Homo sapiens: one gene and its partner. The protein of the gene in region 2 purifies or fractionates together with the protein of the main gene of each other region. This does not show direct contact. Each region holds a gene or a part of one and is shown on either strand. Other genes may lie near its edges.

What was found.
Region 1: the proteins of IGFBP7 (region 2) and GGH purify together in Homo sapiens (co-immunoprecipitation; one large-scale study listed by IntAct). This does not show direct contact.

Annotation. Positions count from the first base shown.
Region 1 is NC_000008.11:63,017,989-63,021,815, forward strand, and holds part of GGH (gamma-glutamyl hydrolase isoform 1 precursor), read right to left. Parts: intron 1-3,827. UniProt on the Homo sapiens protein: Hydrolyzes the polyglutamate sidechains of pteroylpolyglutamates. Progressively removes gamma-glutamyl residues from pteroylpoly-gamma-glutamate to yield pteroyl-alpha-glutamate (folic acid) and free glutamate.
Region 2 is NC_000004.12:57,033,825-57,037,651, forward strand, and holds part of IGFBP7 (insulin-like growth factor-binding protein 7 isoform 1 precursor), read right to left. Parts: intron 1-3,827. UniProt on the Homo sapiens protein: Binds IGF1 and IGF2 with a relatively low affinity. Stimulates prostacyclin (PGI2) production. Stimulates cell adhesion. Acts as a ligand for CD93 to play a role in angiogenesis.

The DNA of each region.
Region 1 (3,827 bases), on a different chromosome or scaffold from region 2:
GCTTTCCTGTCCTCCCATAATGACTTATTCATATGAGAATGAAGTATGGCAGCACTTCTGGTATCCTTTTACACCCTGCCTAAACTGCCTAAACTGTGTCTCTCTCTCAGTCTATGGAATGACTGATGACTTTGTGGTATAAATTTTTAAAATATTTTTTAGAAGTTTAAAAGCAGACATAAAACAAGAAGGGAAACAGAGCTGTTGACAATTGTCAAAGCTGATAGATAGACACCCAGGGTTCATATTACTCTCTCTATGTTTACATACTCATGAACAATTCCACAATTCAAAAAAAAAGTGAATATGTGTAATAGTTACCTTCAGAAAAATGTACATATTTGTCTCTTCTTCAGATGTGCCTTTCCTCATTTTGATTTAAAAAAAACAAATCTCCCCTCTATTATTTTCTGCTTTGGAATTGTAACCATGACCACCATCAGAAAGTACTTGGAGAAATGAAGTGAATTAATGAAAGAAGAGATATCTAGGGGTAAGAGCACTGTCTGTTCTCATCCCAGTAAGCTTTCTGACTAGAGAGCAGGCCACAGAAGGGAAACATTTTATCCCAGTTTTGTGGGTATTCACGAGAGGAAACACCTGCCTCATGCAGCTCCAGGCACTCAGCTCCCTGCCTCCCCCACTTCCGTGTGACACTGCCGTTTTTCCCCTCTATTCTGGGACTACCTGTGAAGCTACCAGCAAGAGACCCACAGGCTGGGGGACTAGGAAATTGTTACATAGAGTTAATTGAAAGGCAGACCTTCTAGTATATTGGATATAAATCTTTTTTATGATTTAAGACTATTTTTGTCCTCAATAATGCTTCATGCGTTGGAAAAGATACATATATATAAGAAATCTTCAAAAAGCTCATGGAAAACGTGTATTATGAAAAAAATTATGCAAGGATTTCACCATTTTTTTGCACCAAAATAAACTTGTAGTAACTTGTATGAACAGGATCCAGTATGAGGCACTAAGAAGGACAAGACATCAGTTTTAAAAGAACCCCTGTAACAGCAATATGAATTTTGCTAAAATTGAAGGCAGAAAAAATAGCAAATTTACGGTGAAGCTTGGATGGAAGAATGGTAAAACCGCTGATGCTTTACAAAAAATTTATGGGGATAATGTCCCAAAGAAATCAGCAGTTTACAAATGGATAACTTGTTTCAAGAAGGAATGAAACAATGTTGAAGCCCTCAGGGCAGACTATTCACATCAATTTGCCAGGAAAATATGTATCTTGTTCGTGTCTTAACTGAAGAAGATCGCAAATAAACAGCAGAACCAACAGCCAATACCACAGACATCTCAGTTGGGTCAGCTTACACAATCCTGACTGAAAAATTAAAGTTGAGCAAACTTTCCATTCGATCGGTGACAAAACCATTGCACACAGATCAGCTGCAGACAAGAGAAGAGCTTTCAATGGACATTTTTAACAGGTGGGATCAAGATCCTAGAGCATTACTTTGAAGAACTGCCACTGCAGATAAAACACGGTTTTACCAGTATGAACCTGAAAACACAATCAAAGCAATGGCTACCAAGAGATGGAAGTGGTCCAGTCAAAGCCAAAGTGAACTGGTCAAGGGCACAGGTCATAATGTTTTTTTGGATGCTCCAAGGCATTTTGCTTGTTGATTTTCTGGAGAACCAAAGAACAGTAACGTTTGCTTTTTATGTGTTTTCAGAAAGTCAGCCAAAGCTTTAGCAGAAAATCGCCCAAGAAAGCTTCACCAGAGTCCTTCTCCAGCATGACAATGTTCCTCCTCATTCCTTTCATCCGAGGGCTATTTAGTGAGCATTTTGATGGGAAGCCATTAGGACCTTATGGTCCTGATTTGGCTCCTTCTGACTTATTCTTGTTTCCTAATCTTAAAAAAATCTTTAAAGGGCACTCATTTCTGTTAATAATGTAAAAGACCGCATTTGACGTGGTTCAATTCACAGGACCCTCAGTTCTTTAGGGATGAACTAAAAGGTTGGTATCATCATGGGCAAAAGTGTCTTAAACTTGATAGAGCTTATTTTGAGAAATAAAGTTTACAGTTTTTATTTTTATATTTTAATTCCATTTTTCCCACAAACTTTTTGAAGTCACTGACATTCAGTAACGAGTGAGATTTACTCTTCTTTAGTAAACTGCATTACTAAAAGACCAGTGCAGTTTCCTGAAAACTAGGAATCATGCCCTGCCTCACTGATTTAGACAGAAGTATCAAGAGTGGAAAGAAAATATGCAAATAATAAAGCATCTCAAGTGTTCCTATTTTGGAGGTGGGAGAAAATTTTCAAATGAGCCTGGTATGGCATAGTCAAAAGCAGAACCAACATGGAACCTGATTTCCTAACTTCCAATCCAATATTCTATCATTTAAATAATTAGGCATTCATTCAACATCTATGAGCCCTAGAAACACAAAGGAGAGTAAGATACAGTTCCTGATCTCAACAAGCTTTTCATCTAGAGGGATGACAGAACAAGAGCAAATACATGCATTAAGAAACGTTCCCACACAGCACAAAGCACCAAGGTTGTGGAGAAGAGGAATAATGGTAGAAAAGGCCTCTAGGGATGACAAGTGGCCTGGGTTTTTCGAGATGGCTAAGAGTTCATCAGGAGAAAGGAATAGGGGAAAGGGGGAGCTTTTCAGAGAAGAGGAAAGCACATGAGAAGCAGTGCAGAGGCAAGAAGCATGGCTCTGTGGAGGGACTGTGTGTAGCAAACAGGTCGTGCAGGGTACAAGCTAGAGGTGAAGGCAGGGAGAGGGCATGAGGAAATAAGCTCATAAATCTAGACTTCATCCTCCAATGCAGAGGAGCCACTGAGGAGTTTTGTTCAGGCAATACTATCAGACTGGCACTTCAGCAGACCACGAGTGGGTGGCTGGAAGATGGGTTTGTGGAAGCCTTAAGAGGCTGCTGCTGCAGCAATCCAGGTGGCAGGTGGTTAATGCTGATGTAGCAAGGTACATCGGATTGGGAGGACGAAACATGATTAATACTTCCAAAGCCCTTCTACTGTCCCTCCCACCCCTTCAGCCCAGTGAGAAGGACTCTCATAATTATTCATCACCCCAACCTTTCCTTAGATTTACCACCGAACATTGTTTCTTTTTTGCCAAATTTTAATCATCATATAAATGAAAACATACAGCATGTATTCCCTTGTGACTTGCTTCTTTAACTCAAAATTGTCTTCATGATTCATTCAGTGGTACATGCAGGTGTGTTCACTGATTTTAATAGCTGTATAGTATTACTTATCCTTTGCACTACTGGACTTTTGAGTTGTTTTCCATTTTTTTGCTGGTATGAACAAAATGTCACGTACATTTCTATCTACATGAAATTATTTCATTAAGATATTTTTTAACCAATGAATAAAACTGCCAGGTAACAAAACTGGAAAATGTTTGATTTTACTAAGAAATGCCAAAATGTTTTCCAATCGTAAGTGCATGACAGCACCTGCTGTGCGACATCCTGGGTAACACTAGTTATCAGCAGGCTTCTTAATTTCGCCAATCTGATGGGTATAAATGGTTTTTTACTTTGGTTTCCATTTGCATTCCCTGATCAGAAATTACACTGAGCAACTTATCTCACCAAGCCATAAGTGGACAGGACAATCAAGTTTTTTTGGATGGTATCCATTCAAATCTCATATCCTTTTTTTTTTTTTTTTTTTTTTTGAGGCAGAGTCTCGCTCTGTCACCCAGGCTGGAGTGCAGTGTGCAATCTCAGCTCACTGAAACCTCCGCCCACTAGGTTCAAGCAATTCTCCTGCCTCAGCCTCCCAAGTAGCTGGGATTACA
Region 2 (3,827 bases):
AAAAAACACCTATCAAAGGAGTTCGAGACCAGACTGACCAACATGACAAAACCCTGTCTCTAGTAAAAACACAAAAATTAGCCGATTGTGTTGGCGAGCACCCGTAGTCCCAGCTACTCTGGAGGCTAAGGTGGGAGAATTGCTTGAACCTGGAGGCGGAGGTTGCAGTGAGCTGAGATCGCGCCACTGCACTGCAGCCTGGGCAACAGAGTGAGACTCCATCTCAAAAAAAAAAAAAAAAAAACAGCTGTCAAATACATGTGCTGTCATTGTTCTTTTATGACAAAACTTGCTGACTGTTTCTGTGTATGTCATGTCAAGATTCAGAAGAAACTCAGTTTCTTTGGTGCAAGGCCAATACTGAATAGTATCCTTTTTGCCCTCATTTTAAAAGGCAAAATGTTTTATTATATAAACTCTGGAAAATATACAAAAGAATGAAATTCACTTGTAGCTCCTCGATACATATACATTTAGCAGCTGAGTTACAGAGTACAAATATTTTAAGCCTTGTGATAATGGTGAGTTTTAAAAAAAAAAGGATATACGAATTGTTTGTTCATTCCATCCCAGATCTCCTTTAAGAGCCAACCTGACATTTATTGATATTACCTTTGTAATTAGAAAGGATTTACAACCTCAAATAGCTAGTTTCCTTTTCATTTTCTTCTATAATAAAGCAAATCTTAATAAAGACCAGATAATAGTGTGTATATATAGACACCGTATGTATAAATATAATAAATATATAAATAAATATATACACTTTATTAACTTCCATCTCAGTGTTGCTTTTCCCATGTGGATCCCACTCCTACCATGTGTTTTTTGGTACTCTGCTGTTGTGTCGGCTTCAAACCTACACTGTATTTTCTCAGCTTTATGATGCCAGGACTGGGATTCAGCAAACCACATGTGATCTAGGCCAATTCCTGCTCTAGAAAAAATATCTTGCATGATTTGGAAAGCCTGGCTTTTTGCATTTTTTTTCTGGAATTTTCCCACATTGCCACTATTAGTGAGAGAAAACCACGTAACTTAATGTCTTTCTCATAAATGCTGTGAAGACAAACATACTCAATAGGTACCTTTTCCCTTAGTTTCCCAAGTAGCTGGCAGAAACGGTTTATGCTAATACAGCTTTTGAAATAGTTACTTAAAAATGGGTTGTAAGAATATTTTGGTAGAAGTATTAATTTGATCCAAGGTCTCAAGTAATATGACTCTGACCTTTATTTACTGAATTTCAGAATCATATGAGTTTTATGTGTGACCAAAGCAAGAAAATAAACACTGCAGCACTGAAATACTGAATCTCAGCAACTAAGCCTCAAATCCCATAGCTCTTAGTAACAGCATTTTATGCTAATTAACCTGATCCACTATGGAAAGGGAAATGTATCTTGTTAAATATAATATTTAACATAAATCACAATATAGATATACTTTATTTTTCCCTTCTTTTCACAAGTGTTGGCATGGCGTATTTTAATTAATGTTACGTAATTATAAAAGGTTATACATCATGTAGAAAACATAGAAAAAAGTGCCAAGAATTTTCATATGACAAATTTTTATATGTCAAACTCTCCCTTATTCGTGTAAGGGGATTCTAAGTGTTGTTAAGTATGTGTTTTCTTTTTTTTTTGAGACAGAGTCTCGCTCTGTCACCCAGGGTGGAGTGCAGTGGTGCGATCTCAGCTCACTGCAACCTCTGCCTCCGCCTCCGGGATTCCAGTGATTCTCCTGCCTCAGCTTCCCGAGTAGCTGGGATTACAGGCATGTGCCACCACGCCTGGCTAATTTTTATAGTTTTAGTAGAGACGGGGTTTTGCCATATTGGCCAGGGTGGTCTCGAACTCCTGACCTTAAGTGATCCACTTGCCTTGGCCTCCCAAAGTGCTGGGATTACAGGCATGAGCCACTGTGCCTGGCCAATAAATATGTGTTTTCTAGTTAAAATTGGAATTAAAACTAAAAAAGAGAGGTTAATATTCAGTGCTAGTAAAGATGCAGAGAAATGGCACTTCTCCATTTCTGGTGGGAGTGTGAATTACTACAATCTATTTAGAAAGTAATCTGACAATGTCTGTTAACACTGAAACAAATATTTTGACTTAGGTAACTGTTGGGGAATCTATCTTATAGCAATACAATCACTAGTATGTATGATATGTGTACTTTGATGCTTAAAGTAGGTTTTTTAAGTTAACAAAAATTTGGAAACAACAGAAAAAATACAGAACTGATTTAATAAATTACAGTATTCATACTTGGAATATTACGTAGCTGTTGAGAAGCAGACTTGGACGGATGTCCATGAAGTATTTGTTGAGAAAAGCGAGTTTCAGAATAATTTACTGGCACACTATATTCTCATTTCACCGTAGGGATATATGTTTGAATATGCTTGGATATGAAAAAGAGTGTGGAAAGATACAAACCAGGGCAGTTCACATTGGTTACCTCAGGCAGGAGGAGGAGGTGGGGGGAGATTCTCAACTCTTTCTTTATACGTCTTTGGATAATTTCTGCTTATTACTATTACCTTAGAGGTCACTATTTTTGATTAAAAAATATTCTTAGAGGTCAAGGAAGCCCTAATCTGAAGAAATATTCAGGCAAGAAAAGAATTAAACAGAGAGCCTCTCCGTCTCAGAAACAAATATTGGGAAGGTGTTTTGCTTTCGCTGTGAGCATCATCTTTGATTTAAAAGGGTTAAGTCAAATATGGCTATTTCAGTTCACGTTCCCATTTCAAAATATTGCCCTTCGAATCTTTCTAGGCTAGGAGTTTGCTGAAAGGTATGGGGCTTGTTAAAGCCAGCTTTCCTTACTACCAGTAAGGAAAGTAAAGACCACTCGCCAGGCTGTGCCAACCGTAAGAATTGCCACCGTAGTCTCAAGTGTCATGGAGAAAAGGCTTGTACCATTAATTCTGCTGTTGCTAAGAATCCTTGAGCAAGAAGGACATGCTGTCTTTATTTGAGCCTCAGTTTCTCTTGTTTTACAAGTGAGGATTCTAATAATCTATCCAAAAAGGTGTTCTACTCTTAAATTGGATTTGAAACACACATGATAGTAAATATGTTTGTATTCTTAACAGTCTGGTTACAAGGACAGCGATGAGAAAACAAATACCCTGTTTAATTATTTAGGTCAGTGACTTCCCAAGTTTCCTTAGTTTTGACATGGACCAAACTATCGTATATCTGGAATATACAAAAGTTTTAGGAAATGACACCTTCATAAGTGGTAAGTGTGATGCCTTAACATAGGTTCTGTTCTATTTTTTATTTTTTATAAGAACATGGTGGTTGTGATCGCTACATTAGTTCCAGGAGTCACTGATGGGTCATGGTCTGCAGTGTAAGAAACATTGCTTTGGGTCATGCATGTGGCAAATTACATTATGAAGGTAGAGGAAAACCGGCAGAGCATCACAGTTGGGTTTTGCTTGTTCTGGAAAGTCTGCAGAAAAAATTGTTTCTCTCCTACTTCCTCTTCACTTCTTTACTTCAGCACCCATCTCGTTGACTGACATAGTGGGTTTTTTGGTTTTTTTTTTCAGAGACAGGATCTTGCTCTGTTGCCCAGGCTGGAGTGCAGTGGTGCCATCATAGCTCACTGCAGCCCCACCTTTTGAGCTCAAGCGATCCTCCCACCTCAGCCTCCCGAGTGGCTAGGGACTACAGGTGCGAGCCACCACACCAGCCTCAACTGCCTTGGTGTTTCTGACTAGCCCTGAGGACAAGCACTCAGGGAGGCCTTGTCTATTGGGATCTGCCCTGTACAGTCCTAAAAGGGAAAAGATTCCCGAGGCAGAC